Linked DNA regions of Homo sapiens. The protein of the gene in region 3 interacts with the protein of the main gene of each other region in a pairwise test. Each region holds a gene or a part of one and is shown on either strand. Other genes may lie near its edges. The genes, in order: EFCAB11, SHBG and AKR1B1.

Region 1 (7,162 bases), on a different chromosome or scaffold from region 3:
CTTTGGGAGGCTGAGGTGGGCGGATCACTTGAGGTCAGGAGTTGGAGACCAGACTGGCCAACATTGGTGAAACCCCATCTCTACTAAAAACACAAAAAAAAAAAAAGAAAAAAAAGAACCGGGTATGGTCGTGTGCACCTGTAGTCCCAGCTACTCAAGAGGATGAGGCAGGAGAATTGCTTGAACCTGGAAAGTGGAGGTTGCAGTGAGCCTAGATCACGCCACTACACTCTAGCCTGGGTGACAGAGCAAGACTGCATCTCAACAAATAAATAAACTTAATTATGTAAAAAACTGCATGAATGTATAAGTGATTTATTATATAAGTATTTTATTGCTTCATGACCTGCAGTCAGTGAATATTTCATTTGCTCAAAAGCAATATTAAAAAATTAAACCCCAAACCTCAACCTAGTCTAAAAAAATCTGTTGAATTTCACAGAAATTAAGTGTCACCTGCATAATAAAAGTTCATTGTACAAATGACTAAGTTTATAGGTGACATGCTATTAGTAAATACCGTTTAGTGACCTGCGGTTACTAAATAGTTCATTTGCTTAAAAAATAAAATAGAAAACCTCACCTCAATATGAAAAGTAAAATCTGTTAAATTTCATGGAGTGTATGTACAGTATGTTACATCACTGTATCTGTCATTAAATTCCTCATTCTAAAATTGAAACCAAATAGACTCAAGGGTGATAAAGGCAAAAATGAGACAAGATACCTTTCCAGGTGAATCCAAGTTAAATACAATGCTTCACAGGCTGACTCTTTTCAGCTGACCTGCTTTGTAATTCCAACTGAAATGATTACAGGTAAACAGGAGAGCTGCCATTTCTAAGAGTCAGCCCTGACTACTTCTCTGAGCTCCATAATAAGCTTCTCAGTAACTAGGCAGCCCCTCATAGCTGAGCCACTCTGAACCCACCTGAGCTGTTCATGCAACCTACTTGGGTCAAGAGAATATATTAATACTTATTGTGCATCACAACTTCACAGTAAGTATGTTCTGTTGACACAAATAGGGCGGAGAGGCATGACATCACAGGGTCCCTGGCTTTGCTGGGCTTTCAATCTGACAGAAAGGCACAGTCCACTCATGAGGAGAACAGCTGGGCCCTAATTAACTGCCAAGCTGTCTGGTCTAATGAGAGTGAGGGATGGCATTCCAGGCTGAGCTCTGAGTGCTTCCTTTGCTTGATGGTGGCAGCTCAATTTCTTGAATCTGGACAATATCTTGACTCTGACTAATTCCAGCTTAACAAGAAGGGTGTTGTCTCTCGAATGAATGTAACAGGAAAGCAGAAAAGCATAAAGACAGGGGTGAGCAGGAAACTTGCCCTACTCAAGCAGGAGGTTCATGGAGGCTCAGCTCAACTCTCATTATTGGTGAATTGGTGCAATCTTTTCTGGAGAGCAAATATCTAACAAAATTTTAAACGTACATATTCCATGACCTAGCAGTTATACTTCTAGGAACTTATTCCACAGATATACAGCCACAAGGACATAAATGTGTGTATCATTGCAGCAATGTTGGCAGAAAAAAAAAAAAAACCCCACCTATATAACCCCAGACAGGAACCTGGCTAAAAAGAATATGCAACCATATTTTAAAATGCAGTAGTGGTGTGTGCTTTTAGGTTGATATATTGTTAAATGAGAAAAGCAAGTTAAAGTAGGCACAATATTTACCCATTTATGTTTTCAATAAAAGACTATGCATATGTATGTCATGGATAGAAAATTTCAGAATTACACAAAAAAACTGTTAATGGTAATCCCCTAGGAGTGGGACCCTCTGGTAGGCGGCGAGCGGATTTTATGCTCAACTTTATACCTTTCTGCACTGTTTTAATTTTTTGACCGTGGATGTATTTTATAAACAAAGCAACAAAAGTAAAACGAGAAAGAGACTATGTCATGTCCTATGTAAATTTCTCCTGTTACCAACACTCCCCTCTCAGTCTTCCCTCTTGGCACCTCTCTAGCATCTTGTATTTATAGTAGTTATTAGCAGCCTGGTGGTGAGATAGGCTTGTGTAGACTCCAGTGGAAAAGATTTCTACTTCATCTCTGGGCTGAGGTGTTAAGAGGAAGCTAAAATTCAGCACTGGACACATCTCTGAAATTGCTTATAAAGCAATTTATAAACATCCTAAGCTAGCCCTGTGAACTTTTCTTAGGATCCATTCACCTTTGATCGTCTACCCCATCCCCAAATATATAAGAAAGCTCTACCTTGGAGGGCTTGTACCCAAACAGCATTACAACAGCAGTTTTAAAGTCCTCTCTGCTGAGATATCCTTTGTGATCTTCATCACATGCTTTAAATACCTGAAGAACATTAAATAGCTTTAGTTAATGAGACAGAAATGGTTTATTTTTATTACTAGTTTATTATACAGTTTGGACCTCGAAAATCTAAAACTTGGCCCAGCGGTAGAGTATGAAAATAGAATTTCATTATCCCAATATTAATTCTCAAGAAATCTTAAAGATGGACTGAAATTTTCTTAAACATGGGCTGAAATTTCCCTCAAAGTGCAAACGAGTTAACCGCTAGGTGACGCAAATTAATTCATTTAGGCCACTGAGATAAATTCTACCCAAAATTCAGTCCTGGAGTTAGGAAGGTGAGGCAAAGGGGCTGGCTTTGAAAGGCGGGAGAGATGCAGACTCAAGGTTACCATTAATAGACTATATAGAGAGAAAGGAGATGGAACTTGGAGGTAGCCGTAGTCCTGGACGGGGAGCCAGGAGCCCTGCAGCTCCAGGATCAGTCATTAACCACGACCCTTTGGACAGGCAGCCCAGGTCTTATCTGCACACCCGGCAGAGTGAGACCCAGACACGGGAGAGGAAGCGAGAGGCCCAGGCCAAGCTGAAGTCCGAGGCTCAGTCGCCCTCCGGAAACCTACTTCCACCCACTTCCTGTGTTCCGAGGGACTGGCTTCCCACGTCCGCGACCTGGCTCTGGCCTCGGAGAAGAACATCGCGACTACAACAACCGAGCCCCAGCAACCCAACCAGCTACCACCGCTTTCCCAGCCTGGCTGGCAGCCTACCGCGGCCACGCCCACCGCGGCTCAGGAAGCCGAACTTCACCGCGCAACTCCGACGTCTCCTCCCATTGGACAACCTGCCAGCCACTCGCGTTAATCCCGCAGGGCTATTGGCCAGAGTCTTTGTTTAATTACGTTTCCTTGGAGCCGCCCTGGCAGTGAGGCGCCCAGGCCTGCCCCCAGCACTTGGCTCCACCCCCTGACTGTCCCTTAACTCGTTGAGCGCGGCTGGAAATCCAAGCGCTTCTAGGTGCTGGTTCAATGCCTGGTTCATGATTTATTTCATTCTCTCCCTCCATCTTGCAATAGGTTACTTTTAATCATTTAGATCTATGACACTATGCTAAACGTTATAGGAGACAAAAAGACTGTGAACAAACAAGAAGAACCAAACGAAAAGAGCCAAGTCCAGGATTCTCGTTCAGATCAGCAAGTCATTGGGATCGAGCTCCTAGGGCAGCTACTACATCTGTTATGTCCTCAAGATAATCCCAGCACCTAGCACTGTGCCTGGCACAAAGTAGATCTTCAATGAAAGAACGAAACGAGCCGTTATATTTACACAGATGTATTTCACTCAGTCCTCTGGAAGAGATGCCTAGTGTGAAAGAGATTCCAAGAATAAATACCATAAACAGCACCGAGCCCAAATCCCACAGCAAACATCCTTATTAAAGGCAAGGAACGTGGGGCGAGTTCCTTTTCTCAGAAGATTTTACGAGAACGCAACTGTTGCGAAGAAGGAACAGACATTCGAGGTTCTGAGTCCAATGGGAACTCATTTAACTTTTTATTTTGCAGCAGATTTCAAAGTCTGCACCCAGCCCCTCCCAGGACACAGGTCTCCTTGCAGCTGCCTTTAACCTAAGCGTATCCTCTCTCCACTTTAAACCAAACGCCGCTGCATGGAGCCCTGGGAGCCTGAGCCATGAGAATCCTGTAAAGAGGGTGAGTCTTGCTATTAGTTAACTAGAGCGAAGTTAGGGGACGCCTTTCTGGTTCTCCTCTCGTTTTAAGAAGTCTCCAGGAAGTAAGCCAAGAGCTAGGAGAGACCAGGTTTCCCCAGCCCCGTCCTGGGTAAACACCCGGCGGGCTTTAGGACCCAGCGGTGGGCTCTCCGGAAGGGGAAGGGGCCGGGCCTCGAGGCACAAGCCGCTGCCGCCAGGGTTTGAACTGCGCGCATGCGCGGCGGCCGCCGAAGGGGCGGGATCCGAGGCAAGCGTTGGTTCTGTGCGCCTCAGGTACGTGTTGGGCGGCAGTGGGCGCGGACTCGGTGCGGTCTCTCGCGGGCTGCGGTCGGGCCCGGGATCCTGCTCCTGGCCGAGTCGCGGTGCGCGGGCTGCTGGGGTCCGGCAGGGCTGGAGGCGGACCGCGAGGAAGCGGCGCGGCCGGGAAGATGGGGCAGGGTCGCCTCGGCCCCGGGGCCTCGGTTTCCTCCGATCACAGCGCCTCAGGGGGCGCGCACGGGCGCTGCGGAGACCTGTGTCCTGCCGGGGCGCGGCGCTAGGGGCCCCTGCTCGGGTTTTTATTCCCAGACCTAAGCTTACAGGTGCGTGGTCCCAGAAAGTGAGTAGGAAAGCGCCCACCACGTGCCAGGCGCTTAAGCTTTCTGTGCTCGGTTTCCCAGTATAGGAGGACGGTCACGGTACGTAGTATAGAGTTGTCCTGAGGGTGAAGCGAGTTTACACTTGGTGAGGCGCTTCGAATCGTGCCTGGCCGGCCCCAAATGAGCACGCAGTAAGGTTAGCAGCTGCTGCCGTCACTTCCTCACGTTCTGAATCTGCTCCGTCCCCAACGCCTTCAGCAAGAGCCCTCTCACTTCCTTTGTCTTCAACCCATTCTCCGCAGAGTTGGAGCACACAGCTGTATTAAAAAGGCAAATCGAAGGCCGGGCGCGGTGACTCACGCCTGTCATCCTAGCACTTTGGGAGGCCGAGGCGGCTGAATCACTTGAGGTTAGGAGTTTGAGATCAGCCCGGGCAACATGGTGAAACCCCGTCTCTACAAAAATAGAAAAATTAGCCGAGCGTGATGGTGGATGCCTGTAATCCTAGCTCCTCGGGAGGCTAAGGTAGGAGAATTGCTTGAACCTGGGAGGCAGAGAGGTTGGAGTGAGCCGAGATTGCGCCATTGCGCTCCAGCCTGAGCGGCAGAGCGAGACTCTGTCTCAAAAAAATAAATGTAAATCGGACTCCCCTTCTTAAAGCCCTCAGTGGGGTCCCATTGATCATTGCATAAAATCCAATTTCTTTAACAAGTCTTCTCCCCTCACCCGCTTCGGACCACTGCCTGCCTTGCCTAAGTCCTTTCTTATGACCTCTTTCCCACCTCTGCCGGCTGGGTTCCCTCTACTTGGGAATGCTCTTCACCCCATCATTTAGACAGCAGGTTCCTTTTGGCCCTCTGGGTCTCATTTATATGTTACTTTTTAAGTATATTCCAAAGGTCACCCCTATTTTTCTGTCTCATACTTATAAAATGTAATGAATGTCTAACTCATCTTGGCTATTAAAATTTTTATGTGTGGGTCTGTCTCTTCTGCCCTGAAATTAGCTCTGCTAGGGTAGAAACTATATTGTTAACGCCTCATTCCCAGTTTTTGGTACATAATAGCTGCCCAGTAAGTTATTGAATGAATGAACTCCAGGGGGTAAGCATGATATCCATTTCACAGACTAAAAAACTGAGGCTCAGCAGTTAACTAACCTGCCCAAGTGCACATTTACTCCCTAGTCATGGCCGGGTTTGAGACAAGGGACCATGTTTGCCTATTACTGGCCACACAGGAACTCAATTGAGGAGCATGGCCTCCAGGCCCAGCTGATGGTCTTTAAGCTCAATGAGAAGGAGCAGCTGGAGGTGAAAGAGAAATGCCCCAGCTGGGTCTCATATAGTGGGGAGTGAGGAAACACTAGTAGCTCTAAATGGAGTACCCTTTTATATCCACAACATGTTTTAAAGTCCTTAATAAAAGTGCTAACAGTGTCCTGAGCTAGCATTTGGTGGGAAGATTTCTTAGATTTTTCATGTTAGTGCAGTGTTTGCCAAATTTCACTCACACTCACCTGCCTTCTCCCCAGTTTGCTTTATTCTCTTAACACATGACACAGGATTTATTTCAGGGCCGCTTTGCCAGCTGGAGACCTCCAGCCCTGGGCTGGCTGCAGGAGGTGCCCTGCCCACTCAGCCTGGCAGAATGCATTTGTCTTTCATCCCCGCCCAGATCCCGTGGCCACTATGACTGCATGCTCAGCCCGCGAGGAGTCGGTTTGTGAGTGAGTGAGCAAGCCTGGAGGCCCGGCTGGCTGTTCCAAGTGCTGGCCCAGTCACAGGCTCCATGTAGGGCTTGTGGATGGCCTGGGTGTATGGCAAGTGACTCTGGTAGCAGATTCTGGTGTCCAGACGAGGGGGATGCAGTAGTGCCCAAACACTTGGAGACACCAGGCAAATAGAGATGTATTAACAGCTCTTTTAGTCCCACCATCTGCAGCCCAATGAATGGGGGTGTGTGGCAGCCAGCAGCTCCCTCTCCCATTGCTTCACTAGCGGAACGGAGTGCTACAGGGTTATAGCTCTATTTGCACTCGCTGTTTAGCTGGTCCGAATTTCTTGTCCTGCGTCCAAGAATAATGAGGTTAGGCTGACAACCGAAGGGGAAAAGGGCGGAGGTGAGTTTTACTCAGTGATGAGACAGTTCTCAGCAGAGACGGGACCCCAAGTGGATGGCCCCTGCCCTGACCCCAAGGTGGGCAGTTCGCTGGTGTGACTGAGTCTGGGGCTTTTATGGGCTCAGAATGAGGGAGTGTGTGCTCCATGGTTTGTGAGTATGCAAAAAAGGCTAAAACAAAGGCACCACTCAAAGGTGGGCATGACAATGTAAAAAACCAATTAGGGAAGGGTAGATATATGTAAAGTAGGTGAAGGGTGGGGATTGATCAGAGGAAAGTGTGCCAAGTGGGAAGAGGGGTTATCAATCCGGTCCGTGGATTTACCCAACACTTGTAGCTTGGCTTTCAGGCTTTAAACTGTCTTTGGTTTGCAGGTGGGGTTTCACTGGGGCCCTGCCCCTATCTGCCTAGGGATTTGTCTGCCTC
Region 2 (6,925 bases), on a different chromosome or scaffold from region 3:
GCCATTCAGGCAAAAAGAGGTGGAAGAGTCTTCTCCTAGAGGGAGGTAGTGCAAAGGTGGCATTAGAGCATTAAGGTGGCTCGGATCCAGAATCTTCTCCCCACTTTTCCACTCCTCCAACCTGAGTTTGCAAAAGCACTACCTTCCACTGCCCCCATATCTTCTTCTTGTGGCCTATTCTTCTTCCCTCCCAGAGGTTTCCTTCCCCTCAAAATGTGCCGCCTCCCTTGAGCTGTTTCCAATGTTGTGCTCATGAACTTGAACATCATTCTCTCTTACCTGGTAAAGCCCCCAGGAAGAGACGCCCTTGAGGCTTGGCCCAGAGGTTAAGGAGGGGAGCCAGGCCTAAGGGAGGCAGGGCAAGGGCCTTCATCTTCGACCCTTGGCTCAAGACCACCCTGGACATACTCAGCTTCAGCTGAAGAGGGAGTCCCAAGACCAGGGGCAGATCCAGCCCTGGCCCCGACCCAGAAGACAACACCACCTTCTGCAGAGTGTGTGGGAAAGGGACGGTAGAGAGAGAGGGAAGAATGAGCCGGGCCTACTGCCTGTGGCCTCACCCCTAGCTGCCTTAATTCTGCCTCTTCGCTATGCCTCCACCTACTGGCCATTCTCACCACTTAAATCCTGCCCCAATTTTTTTTGGCTTGACCCTTTTTGAAACCACACCTGCCCCAAGTAAATATGCAGTCTAAGTCAAAACTGTTTGCTTGCTGTGGGGAGCTTCAAGATATGTCCCTCGCCCCTACCACCCACCTGAGTGCCATCCATAAGCCTTATTTTTATTTTTATTTTTTTGAGACAGGGTCTCACTGTGGCCCAGGTCAGAGTGCAGTGGCACATCATAGCTCACTGCAGCTTCAAACTCCTGGGCTCAAGTGAACCTCCTGCCTCAGGCTCCTAAATAGCTAGGGCAGCAGACATGTGCTACCATGCCTGGCTAATTTTTTTTTTTTTTTAGACAGAGGTCTCTGCTATGTTGCCCAGGCTGGTGTCAAACTCCTGGCCTCAAGTGATCCTCTGGTCTTGGCCTCCAGCACCTGGGATTACAGGCAAGCACCACCATGCCTGGCTAATTATTAATGAAAAACAATTCTGTGGAGCCAGTCTTGTTATGTTCCCTGGGCTGGAAACCTTCCTAATATTGACATGTTGGACTCCCCTCTTCCCTCATTGCTCCAGGCTCCACTGAATACAGGCAATGCCCCACTGTCCCCCTTTACTTGATCTTGGAGGTGGAGACTGAGCCAAGATGGGTTCTCTGGTGTCCCAAGAGCAAGGAGGTGGCCTGAGCCTGCTGCCTGCTTGAGTCCCAGGTCCAAAGAGAAGGCCCAGGGCTCTGCATGAGGCTGGGGAATGTCTGTGGGGAGAAATGATTATCCTGAGGCCTCAAAGCTGGGGTCTCAAGGAGGAAAGGGGCCAGTGGTAGAGGGGGACAGAGGCAGGCTGAGCTGGCCAGGGTGGGAAAAATAGACTCCGAGGAAATCTACCTCGGAGATTGAATTCTGCCTGAGTCCCTGGAGGGAGAAATATCCCGGGATTTGATTCTACATCACAGCTTCTGAGGCTAGTGGGGGCAGATGCTGAGATCTCGGCCTGTTTGTCCAGCCAGGAATCCCGGCGCAGGCAGCCATCCAGGGCAGGAACCAGCTGGAGTGTGACAGAGATAAGATACGGGGATGTAGAAATCAGGGCATCGGAGCCGCAGTCCCGACCTCCCTGCCCTCAGTTGACTCCCCTCTGAGCATTTGGCCTCCCCCTTGCAGCTCTCAACCCTTCCCTTCTCCCTAAAAGTGTGGACTTAGATTCCCACGGCCAGCCACCCAGCAGTGCTTTACCAAGTCTTGGCTAGGGTTCCACCCCTGGGGTGTAGTTACCGGCAACCGAAGGTTGGAAGCGGGGAAGAGCAGCCCCCCAAGCGCAATCCTCATGATGGGATGGCGTTTGCTGGTCAGGGGCCCAGAGACCTGTCTCAGGCGCAGCACCTCCTCCCCATCCACCTCCAGCAGCACAGAGTCCCCCTCCATCTTGACTTCCACCTGCAGGAAGGTGGGAAGCAAAATCAGAGGCCCCTGGGATCTGTTTCTGCCACCTTCCTGTGAGGCAGCCTAGTACTATAGTGGAAAGAACATGCCTTAAAGAAGCAGCTAGCATCCTTGGCCTTGGGTCACTCAGCTCTTGTCACTTATATACTGACTGAGCCTTAGAATTCCCATCAGAAAAGATGGGGCCAAGAATAGCTACTTTGTGGGGGTTCGTGTGGATTAAACGAGATGACAGTGGTAGAGGGATGCCCAATAACTTGGTTTTGTTCCCTTTCCTCAGACCAGCTCCAGACATCCCTCCCCTGAGGACCAGAGCTAGCTTACCTGGTGCCATCTCCCATCATCCAGCCGTGGTCCAGCACCCACCGTAAGCTGGGCCCAGTGATTGTGCAGTTGGATCTCAGGCCTGCCGTCTCGAAGTCCCAGCATAAACCAGTCATCCTTAGGGTTGGTATCCCCATAAAAAATCACTCCCTCTGGGTCCCAGGTTCGAACCTCAAAGGAGGAGGAGGTTCTGGAAGGACACAGAAGGAAAGATTGTGTATGTCATGTGTCCTTTGAGAACCAGTGTGGGTTTGGGGGAGATGGTGTTCACAGATAAGGAAAGGAAGACAGGGAAAAGAGAAGAGCTGATGGAGAGAGGGCAGAACCAGGGGACTGGGTCAAGGGCTAGGCCAACCCCATACTTTGTGATCTTGGTGAGGTCAAAGGTCATGACAGCGATAGGCTCTTGTCCTGGGCCATTGCTGAGGTGGACAGCCGGAGGGTCGTGGGCACTCTATCAGAAAGAGAAAACAAACAAAGCTGAGTAGGGACATGTCAGAGACAGACAGAGGGAGAGGCCCTGCTACAGGGCCAGAGGAGAGAAGGGAAGACTGCATGAGCTGAGTGCCCTGTCCCGCTCCTGCACCTGGGTGGGGAGAACAGGTCTCAGGGCCCATCCCTGGCGGGTGTGACGCAGTAGTAGCAACAGCAGCAACAGCAGCAGGCGCGAGGTAGCCAGTGGGCCTCTGCTCTCCATAATCAGCCACTGTCCACTCGGCGGCTCAGACAACTCTTGGGAGAATGTGTAGAGGCAGGCAGCCTTGCGTGTGGGCGGTGGAGGGTTAAAGGTTGCCCGGGGAGGAGGGGGTAAAGGAAACAGGGGCACTGACCCTTGACCCCTGCCCAGGGGCCCAGTCACAAGACTCAGCTATCACCCCTCTGGGGATCAATGGGGTGAAGGACAGAGTCCCCTCCACTATCATCCTCCACTGCCGAGAAAGTTTCTGAACTGGGAGAGGATATTCCATCTCCCCTCTCCTCCTCTAGGGCCTGATCTAGGTCCTCCAAGATTTCTGTCCACTCGGGGAGCCTGCATTCACAGGCCTGAGGTCTAGAAACAGTCCTCCCCTGCGTCCCAAGTAGCATCCTGTATCAGGACTAGAAATGAGATAATGGAATCCTAAATTTCTAGCTGAGTGACCTTGGGCAAGTCACTTCACCTCTGTGCTTCAGTGTCCTTGTCTGTAAAATGAGGAAAATAATACTTTACGGGGTGACTGTGAAAGAGGGTTCATTGAGAAAATGCAGGCACAGTGCCTGGCATCTGGTCTGAACTCCTCCCCCAGTCTTTTCCCAGGCCTCTGAGGCCTGTCTCCCAAGAAGGTATTGTCTGTGTGTATGATTCAGTGAATATTAAGAAGGGACCTGCCCCCCGCCTCTCAGTTATCTTCCCTTATCCATTTATTACAGGGCCTAAACAGTCTAGCAGTAGAAATCACCCACTCCCTGACCCATTTTATTTTATTTTATTTTATTTTATTTTATTTTATTTTAGACAGAGTCTTGCTCTATCACCCAGGCTGGAGTGCAGTGGCGTGATCTCGGCTCACTGCTGCCTCTGCCTCTCGAGTTCAAGCGATCCTCCTGTCTCAGCCTCCTTAGTAGTTGGGACTACAGGTGCACGCACCACCACGCCCAGCAAATTTTTTTGTGTTTTTAGTAGAGACGGGGATTTCACCACGTTGCCCAGGCTGATCTCGAACCTCTGACCTGAAATGATCCGCCCACCTCAGCCTCCCAAAGTACCTGGATTACAGGCATTAGCCACAAGGCCCGACCCTCCCTGACGCATTTTATTTTATTTATTTATTTTGAGATGGAGTTTCGCTTTTGTTGCCCAGGCTGGAGTGCAATGGCACGATCTCGGCTCACTGTAACCTCCACCTCCCAGGTTCAAGCGATTCTCCTGTCTCAGCCTCCCGAGTAGCTGGGAGTAAAGGCATGCGCCACCACACCTGTCTAATTTTTGTATTTTTAGTAGAGACGGGGTTTCACCATGTTGGTCAGGCTGGTCTCAAATTCCTGATCTCAGGTGATCCGCCTGCCTCTGCCTCCCAAAATGCTGGGATTACAGGTGTGAGCCACTGTGCCCACCCCATGACCCATTTTAAAATGCAAATGACAGACCGGGCTTGGTGGGTCACATCTGTAATCCCAGCACTTTAGAAGGCTGAGGCGGGCAGATCACTTGAGGTCAGGAGTTCCAGACCAGCCTGGCCAACATAGTGAAACCCCGTCTCTACTAAAAATACAAAAATTAGCCAGGTATGGTTGCCCATGCCTGTAATCCCAGCTACTCCGAGGGTGAGGCAGGAGAATCGCTTGAACCCAGGAGGGAGAGGTTGCAGTGAGCCGAGATCGCGCCACTGCACTCCAGCCTGAGTGACAGAGTGAGAATCCGTTAAAACAAAAAAAAAGAGAAGAAAAAAGAAAAAAAAATTAGCCGGGCGTGCCGGTGCGCGACTGTAGTTCCAGCTACTCCGGAGGCTGAGACAGGAGGATCGCTTGAACTCGGGAGGTGGAGGCTGCAGTGAGCAGAGATCGCGCCACTACACCCCAGCCTGGGCGACAAAGCAATACACCATCTCCAAAAATAAATAAATAAATAAATATAAAAATAAAACATTTAAAAAATGCAAATGCCCCCAAGAGGTAACACTTCATGCTACTCAAGAGCTGCAGGAAACAGCTTTCAGAGCTGAGGGTCTTAAGGCTTACCCAGGGTCTGGGCGGGTGAGTGAGCCTGAGGCTAAAGCAGGTTATCACTGCATATGTCAATTTAAAAAGCACTGCGGGGGAGCCTTTGAACCGCGGGGTATCTCGACCCAGGTTGGGACACCCACACAACCGCAAGGAAGCCGCTTCACTCCAACCTTGAACTCTACCCAGGAGCCCAGTCACAAGATCCAGCTGTCGGGGGTGGGGCTTGGGGGGGACGCGGCCGTGCCTGTTCTCCAAGCTGATTGGCTGACAGTTGTGCCCCCTGCTGCGACAGAATTCGAGGGGGTGGGGCTATGCCCGGACAGAGGATCGCCTCGCTGGCCTACTCTCTCCTCCCGTACGGCGCCGGAATCCCAGCTCCACTTACCAGGCCGCGGCTACCCCGCCGTCCCCCCCGACTCCCGCCACCCCGCTCTCTCAGGCTCTTCAGGATCCAAGTCCGTAGGCCCTTTAAGGGGTCTAGTTGCCGTTTGCGAGGCCCTGGGACTTTGGTCCCAGACAGCGGGGATCCGGATGGCTTCCGTGCGGATCCGAGAGGCCAAGGAGGGAGACTGTGGAGATATCCTGAGGCTGATTCGGGTGAAGACTGCAGGCCGGTAACCCGGGGGTCAGAGTGGCGCGGCCAGAGCGGGGTCGTAGGAGGCGGGGGCAGGGGGAGGGGCTCGCCTTGGGAACCTGCTCGGGGAGCAGCGGGGCCCTTCTGCTCTAATCTAGCTTCCGTACCCACGCCTTAGGAGCTAGCCGAATTCGAAAAACTCTCGGATCAGGTGAAGATCAGTGAAGAAGGTGGGGGCTCAGCGCCCAGGTTCTGGCGGAGGCTGGGGAGGAAATGAGGGATGGGTTCCCCAGGCGACAGCTCCAGGCTGGGCATACACCCACGTCCTCTTTCTCTATCTCTTTGTCACAACTCCAATCTCGGCAGCCCTGAGAGCAGATGGCTTTGGAGACAATCCTTTCTATCACTGTTTGGTAGCAGAGATTCTTCCAGCGCCCGGGAAGCTACTGGGTAAGAGCACCTGGCCCTTAGAAGTCCACCTCTCCAGCCGGCCTCAGAGGTCTCCCCACAGGCTTCCAGAAGCCTTACTCCCCTTTTCTCTCTCTCAGGGCCCTGCGTGGTGGGCTATGGGATATACTATTTCATCTACAGTACATGGAAGGGACGCACCATTTATCTGGAGGATATCTATGTGATGCCGGAATATCGGGGTACTGGGCAGAAGCTGAGGCTGGGGTGGGAGCAAAGCACCCCACAGACCCCACTGTTATCCCCTGTCCCCAGAGCCCAGCCGGTGTCATTTTCTGATCCCCTTCAGCTCAAACAATAGCTATTTTTTGCCTCTTTCTCTCCACAACAGGTCAAGGGATTGGTTCCAAAATAATCAAAAAGGTGGCTGAGGTGAGGAGATGGGTGGGGCGACAAGTGAGGACCTGAAGAAGCAAGGGTATATGGAGGGGGGACCCGGGTTGAAAGAGGGAGTGAGAAAACCTTTTTCTTTTTTGACCCCAGAAAAGTTAGTGTTGTCTTCTCCCACAGGTGGCCTTGGATAAGGGCTGCTCCCAATTCCGCCTGGCCGTCCTGGACTGGAACCAGAGGGCCATGGACTTGTACAAGGCCCTAGGAGCCCAAGATCTGACGGAAGCTGAGGGCTGGCACTTCTTCTGCTTTCAAGGAGAGGCAACGAGAAAGTTGGCAGGAAAGTGACGCCATCCCTAGGAGGATCTCTGTCTTGAGTTTCTCCTTCCCCATCAGCTGAAGCACTCTTCAGAGACTACGTCCACAGACACTGATGCTGAGGCCTCCCTGGAGGAAGGAGGGTTAGGGGTGCCTATCCTCA
Region 3 (7,081 bases):
AACTGCACCTGCCTGCAGGGCCTCCTCCAGCTGTCACAAAGACAGGCAAAGGATCACATCTTCTGTCGAGCATCTGTGAAAGAATACATACACACATACAAGGGAAAGGTTTTTTTGTTTGGTTGTTTTTTTAGATGGAGTCTTGCTCCATCGCCCAGGCTGGAGTGCAGTGGCGGGACCTCGGCTCACTGCAACCTCCACATCTGGGGTTCAAGCGATTTTCCTGCCTCAGCCTCCCAAGTAGCTGGGACTACAGGTGCGTGCCACGATGCCGGGCTAATTTTTTGTATTTTTAGTAGAGACGGGGTTTCACCATGTTAGCCAGGACGGTCTCTATCTTCTGACCTCATGATCTGCCCGCCTCTGCCTCCCAAAGTGCTGGGGTTACAGGTGTGAGCCACCGCGCCCGGCCCCAGGGAAAGGTTTTAAGTCATTAAAAAAAAAAAGGAAGTTGATTCCAAGTCCATCCTTATACCATTACTTTGACCCACCATTCCCCGCTGCCCCCACCGTACAATTCTACACCAACCTGATCTCCTCATCCACAGGAATACAAGTGGGCGTTTTCACCATACAGCTATCTCTAAAGTCGTTTTACTTCTTCATATGAATTCAACACATAACTTTTGGATACCTACTCCTATATTTGCCAGGCACTGTGAGAAGTGCTAGAAATAGTAATGAATGAAGCAGACATTATCCAATTTCTCAATGAACTCTGTCTACTGGAATGCATAACCTAAATGTACAGATGTTATGATGTGATGTTATCTTAAACAAATACATAGCTTTTTGGGGCATTGAGTGCTCAAGTGAATAATCTGAAACCCTCTTTCATAAACTTTTACTCCTCAGCCTGGACAACATAGGGAAACCTGTCTCTACAAAAAATTAAAAACAAACTACCCGAGTGTGGTGGCACACACCTGTGGTCCCAGCTACTTGGGAGGCTGAGGTATGAGGACCACTTGAGCCCAAGAGGTTAAGGCTACAGTGAATCATGATCATGCCACTGCACTCCAGCCTGGGTGACACTGAGCCCCTGTCTCAAAAAAAAAAAAATAAACTTTTACTCCTTATTTACCCTAGAGTAGTGATTTTCAAATGATGGGTCACAAAACTAGCTTCTGGAGGTATGACAATAATTTTTGGAAAAATGGAATAGAAAAAAATATTGAAATGCAGCCTACATAGGTTAAGTACTGTTAAGTAATTTTTATTCCAGTTACATGTATATATCTGTGCGTTGCATCATGCTTAGAAAGTATTTGCTATTGCCAAGAAAGCATCCTTCTGCATCCATTCCAAGAGCATAACATGCAACAGATGGAAATTAGCTTGGTGTCATGGTTGTAATTCAATTACAACCTTAGAGACACCACTGGAGTTTTTGGAGGAAACAAATCACGTACCCTGATCATTCTGGCCAAGAAACACTCTCCCTGATGCAAATGACCTTTTTCTTACCTTATATTTACTAATTTTCAACAGCAGGTTTTAGGGTACATGTAAACTCTTCTGTCCTATTTCAAACATCTCACAGTTCACTCAGTTCTTTCTGTTGTTTTCTTCCCTTGTCTGTGTGTAAATATCCAACGCCCAGGCCCATATTCAAATTTTAAGAGAAAAACCTGGGACGTGGGCCTGCCAGATGGTTCACACCTGTAGCTTTGGGAGGCGAGGTGGGAGGAGCGCTTTGAGCCCAGGAATTGGAGATCACCCTAAGCAACAAGCGGAGACTGTCTCTGCGGGGAAGAAAAAAGATTAGCCAGGTGTGGTGGTGAGCGCCTGTAGTCCCAGCTACCCGCAGTGCTGAGGCAGGAGGATCACTTGAGCCCAGGAGTTCCAGGCTGCAATGAACCATGATTGTGCCACTGCACCCCAGCTTGGGCAACGAGACCCTGTCACAAACAAACAAGCAAACAACAAAAACAGAAACTGAGAAACCCAGGTTATGGCTGTGGAATATAATATGCAATACTTAGAAGGTTAAAAATTCTAGGTTTTGCCTCAGCTCCCATACCACCACCTTTGTTGCTCAATTTTCAGATAATCAGGCTCAGGCTATTATTTTTGGTTTTTCATATCATATTATCATTTTTCATATCCTATGATGTTTCATGTCCTATTGTCATTCTCATCCGGCTAGGCACTTCTCGGGGACGCTGTGTGGTGTTGAGGTTTTACAGGGAAAATGCTAACCTTGGCGCCTCCTGAATTATCAACTAGCTACGGGGTGCCCAGATTTTTCTCCCGAGTTCCAGACCCAGGGCACCCCGAGGCGGCGCCTGGCCGAGGAGCTCCGCACTGCGCCTTGTTAACAGCTGGGTCCGGGCAAACTCGCGCCACCTAATTCTCTGCCCTCTACCGGCTTGAGATGCTTATTCCTCAGGGAGGGCAAGAATCGAAACGATTGAGACCAACTATTTACAAGTGAGGCAACCGGGCTACAGGTGCCTCGAGGGAAAGGAGGCTGGGTCTGCGCTCCCACACCTTGCCGACGGCTCCACGTCCCTGTCTGCGCCCGAGGTCCACCGGTCTGTGAAGCCCACTTTCCCCGCCTCCCTCTCGCGTTGTGCCGCTTGGGGCGCCCGCTAGGACCCAAAATGCGGACTGGTGGGCCGCCCATCAAGGGTTGCCCGCGGTAGGGCGGGGGCTCCCGTGAGCTGCTCCCAAACCCCACTCGCAGGATGCTGCCCTGACGCCCAGGGCCAACCCGGGGAGCCAAGGCCCCCGGTCTCTGCAAGGCCGACCCCAGCCCGCTGGGGACCCTGCAAGCCCGCGCGTGGCTCCCAGCACGCCGGGCGTCCGCGGGGCGAGCTGCTCAGGGTCACTCGGGGTCCCTCGCCAATACAGGCCGCGCGGAGAGTGTGAGGCGAGCCCCGGGCCCGCGCCCCCACGAGCACCTACCTTCCAGGTACCCAACCCCAGGATGGGCATCTTGGCGCCGTTGTTGAGCAGGAGACGGCTTGCCATGGCTGCTGCGCTCCCCAGACCCCCGCCCAGTACGGTGCGGCCTTGGCCGCGGCGCGTACCTTTAAATAGCCCGTGAGGTCGGCAGAAAGGGCGCCTGCGGTTGGCGCGCCGCTGCGCGAAGGAGCCTTCTGATTGGTTGCGCTGGGGGTGCCGCGGCGGCCTTCCCCAAGGGTCGGCGGGGATGCTTCTTCCGCCTGGTCCTAGTGGCAGCGGATTCTTTCCGCCCCCAACGCTCGCCCGCGCCCCGCGTGGCAGAAAGGAGTTCCTCAGCTGCTGTATCTGGTGGGAAAGCGAATGCTTTAGCGAAAATAACAGGCATCCCATAAATACATAGACTAGAAATAAGTTTTGGTTTCATTAAGAGCCCAGAAGAATGCCTTTGTTGTCCAACCCCAGTTTGATGCTCTTTGGGAATCTGACGAATACCTTGTCCTTAATCTATGTGAATCATACTGACTACACATATAGTTTACCGCACTTTGTTCTTAGACAAAGGTGCATGCCAGAAAAATGGCTTGCAATCCTTTTGCAAAGCACCTTCACAAAATATGGGTTTGCCCAGACTTTTTGTAGCCTTCTAGATCTCTCTTTGCACCCCACTCTAGGTGTTAGCTGTGTCTGTGCATACTAGGTGTGGTTCAGCAAGCCTTCCACCAAAAGCCAGCATCCTTTGATGTTCTTGAGGTTAGAAAGCCTTGATGGGCTTGATCCAGAACTCTCAGAAGAATTTGGAAAGTAAGGCTGTCCATTCAGAATCAGTAAGACAAATTTCATCAGTCTTTGGAAAGTGAGACTCTATCAAAGCAGTAAGTTCCAGTACAGTAACTTATCAAAACTCTCTAGAGGAAGAAAAGTGAACAGACAGAAAACCACAGAAGAAAAAGTTGACTCTAATATTGTAGCTTCCAGTATTTCAAATTAGAAGGTACAAAATAGTAAATTGATCACCCTAATTGGCAGGTAGAAACACACATTTTTCCAAGATAGCCTAAGAAAAGTCACTTGAAGATCCTTGAAGACAATTTTGGTTTCTTTCCAACAACCTCTCTTCATGATACTCTACCTCACCCCAACTGCTCTTTCTGCTCCATCACCCTCCGATCTTTCCCCTAATTATGCAAGATTGGGAACTCCATCTGCCTGGTAGTGACTCAAGCACCAGGTCTCTCTAAACTCCATGCCGGTGATTTTCCATTTGGTGCTTTCTTTAAAAGTGCTCCCTCCTGGAAAAATTTATACAGAACAGACTAGCCCAGATATTTTTCCATGTAACTTTTGTAAAAATTGTTGCTATTGGGCAAATTCATTTGTCCCCAAGTAATAGAATTTGAACTTGAGCCTAAAGCTGGGAACTTGCTTTGTGTAAAACAGCAAGTTCCTTCCTCCATGAGAGTCCTCTTGACTTGGAGGTTGCTCTGCCAATTGAACCTCCTGGGTCCAAATCCAAAGAGCTAATCTCTTGTGAAAATGATACACCTTGAGTGGCCAGGTTGGTACACACAGAAGGGTCGTCTGTTAGGGACATGGACTCAATATCAGAGGCTTTGTTGTTGGTTTGATAATAATTGAGTATACAGCTTGATTGCATGAAGTTATAACTGTGTCTAAAGCTGGAGTGATACCTGTAGTCTCAGCTTCTCAGGAGGCTGAGGTGGGATGACTGCTTGAGCCCAGGAGTTAGAGACCAGCCTGGACAACATAGCAAGACCCTGTCTGTAAAATAAATAAATAAACCCAGAATATTTTGGCTGGGCCATGCAGACATGAAAAGTTGTATCAGTGGAATTTCTATAGCAACAATAGCACTCTAGTTGGGACATGCTATTGTGATAGCCCCCTAACATCCCCCATTGCCTCTGTAATCTTTGTAAAATGTACACATACCAAAATTTTTGATCTCAAGATTTTTGATCTCCCATCTTTTGATAAGTATACATATCAAAATTTTGTTTGAAAAAGGGAAAAAAACCTTCAATGGAATCCTCCTGAGAAACACTCTAGTAATTGGAATCTTAACATGCTCTGAACCAGTAATCTCCCATCATGGGAATTTTTCCTAAGGAAATAATTTAAAAGGAAAACACACACACACACACACACACACACACACACACACACACACACACACACTAGGTATAGGGCTGGGCTGGGACCAAGGTAAGACAAATGAGGTACACAGGTACAAATTTTCATGCCAGAAGGTAGGAGCTTTTTTACATTTATGTCCTTGGCACTTGCCTTCCCTTAGTCCCAGGCCTGCACACAGATATACACATATGCGTATGTATTTTTAAAATGCTGTATACTTAAAGTAAAACTGTAAATATCCAACAATAGCAAGAGATAAGGTGTAGCCATCAAAAGTAAAGATGACAAAGACACAGAGAAAAATGTATATGAGGTAATGTTAAGGTGAAAGTAGAAAACAAAGTCATATAGCTATGGAATGATGCTAAGAAGGAAAATACAACCTATAACATTTAGGAAATTTAGGAAGAAGACAGAAGGAAATGGGGAATACTCTTTGTCAGATTATTTCCTTAATGAACACATTTTGAATTAAAAGACAACTTCTTATGAACTGTCCAATTCCCATAGGATAAAACCTAAACTCTTGAGCCTGGCATTCAAGGCCCTGCGAGATCTGGTACAAGTTTGAATATACAAAAAAACCACCCAATTGCATATTTAAAAAGGTAAATCATATGGTACGTAAATTATACATCAATAAAGCTTCTATAAACAAACAAAGGTTATATGCTACATGTCCAACACAAGCTGGTGGAGCTGAGGGTGACAGTAGGCTCTGTTCACATTGTCACTCAGGGACTCAAGCTATGGAGGTCCCACCACATTGTTTCCCTGCTGTCCCAACCCAAGGTTTCAGGGTTTGGCTTAGGAAGGCAAAAGAGAACCTAAGAGTCTCAAATGAGCAATCAATTGCTCAGTCCTGGAAGTGGCACACATCACTTCTACCTATAATCCTTTAACCAGATCTGGTGGTAGAGCCCAGCCAGGCCTATCTTCAATGGGATGGGGAAGTGTCATCCTCCTGTATGCCAGAAAACAGAAGTGAATGGGTATGGTGAGCAACAGAAGTCTCTTCCACAACGACAAACCACTACTGAGTCTTTATTATGGTTTGGACACTGTATTATGGTTCAGCACTTGGCATATGTTATATGAAGGTGCTGCTGCTGCTGCTTATATATCTATTGAGTTATGTACATTAAATCATTTAATCTTCATAACCACCCCTTTCATGGATACTATGATCAATCCATGTTACACGTGAAGAAACTGAGATGCAGAGAAGTGAGAAAAATTGCTAAGATCTCACATTAAGTAAATGTTAGGGTCAATATTTAAACCTAGGAATTTGACTATAGCACTCAAACTCTTAACCACTACCAGTAGCTTTCAAATTTTTAAACTGTGACTCACACTAAGAATTTTGGAATGAGTGACGTCAGGAAGAAGGCTGACTAGAAATGCCTAGTTCTTGTCCCCACCATAAGAAAGGACCAAGGGAATAAATAAACCGCTAATATTTAACTGCAATTATGAAAAAAGAGCATTAAAGTGCAATGGGGGAGTAAAGGGGTACTTGTAGTGATTGGAAGCCCAAGAGAGTACCATGGAGGCACATGGCCTCTGTAGCCCCATCTTGCCTGCCACAATTGCATCAGCCCAGAGACAGGAGGGAAGTCCCCTTTTAGGGAGAAGGTAAAAGAACCTCACCAGTCTCCATTGCCACTGTAAATGACTCCAGTCCTCATTACAAAATAATCCCACAGTCCTTGCAAGCCCCGTGCCCAGTTTGAAGAGCTTCTGGGAATCCATATAGCTGTATCACTCCGGATTAGGAGCACAGGGTGTGTACACACCCTTCCCTTAGTGAGCCAAGCTGCTGCAGCATGGCGCCATCTTGAGATTAGAGCCATTTCTGGACTGTGCCTTGCTCTGGGGGCCGTAGCCATTGCACTTCTCCAGCACTGGGGCTCCATCTTCATTCCACCAAGCCCACATGTGGGCCAACTGCACAAAGACTGGGCCCAGGATTGGCTATGACTCTGGTCCTGCACCACAGTGAAACCAACCCCTG

What was found.
Region 1: the proteins of AKR1B1 (region 3) and EFCAB11 interact in binary tests that used the Homo sapiens proteins (3 or more experiments, as listed by UniProt).
Region 2: the proteins of AKR1B1 (region 3) and SHBG interact in a two-hybrid assay, tested with the Homo sapiens proteins (one study listed by BioGRID).

The regions. Positions count from the first base shown.
Region 1 is NC_000014.9:89,951,662-89,958,823, forward strand, and holds the start of EFCAB11 (EF-hand calcium-binding domain-containing protein 11), read right to left. Parts: upstream 3,070-7,162; 5' UTR 3,000-3,069; coding exon 2,925-2,999; intron 2,876-2,924; exon of another isoform or gene 2,697-2,875; coding exon of another isoform or gene 2,694-2,696; intron 2,341-2,693; coding exon 2,245-2,340; intron 1-2,244.
Region 2 is NC_000017.11:7,626,314-7,633,238, reverse strand, and holds the start of SHBG (sex hormone-binding globulin isoform 1 precursor), read right to left. Parts: upstream 3,105-6,925; 5' UTR 3,067-3,104; coding exon 2,956-3,066; intron 2,824-2,955; coding exon 2,732-2,823; intron 2,560-2,731; coding exon 2,370-2,559; intron 2,040-2,369; coding exon 1,878-2,039; intron 1,651-1,877; coding exon 1,491-1,650; intron 1,361-1,490; coding exon 1,224-1,360; intron 488-1,223; coding exon 280-487; intron 36-279; coding exon 1-35. Other genes in the region: SAT2 (thialysine N-epsilon-acetyltransferase), read left to right, coding at 5,384-5,686, 5,825-5,876, 6,013-6,096, 6,195-6,296, 6,446-6,486, 6,625-6,792. UniProt on the Homo sapiens protein: Functions as an androgen transport protein, but may also be involved in receptor mediated processes. Each dimer binds one molecule of steroid. Specific for 5-alpha-dihydrotestosterone, testosterone, and 17-beta-estradiol.
Region 3 is NC_000007.14:134,456,087-134,463,167, forward strand, and holds the start of AKR1B1 (aldo-keto reductase family 1 member B1), read right to left. Parts: upstream 3,015-7,081; 5' UTR 2,977-3,014; coding exon 2,911-2,976; intron 1-2,910. UniProt on the Homo sapiens protein: Catalyzes the NADPH-dependent reduction of a wide variety of carbonyl-containing compounds to their corresponding alcohols.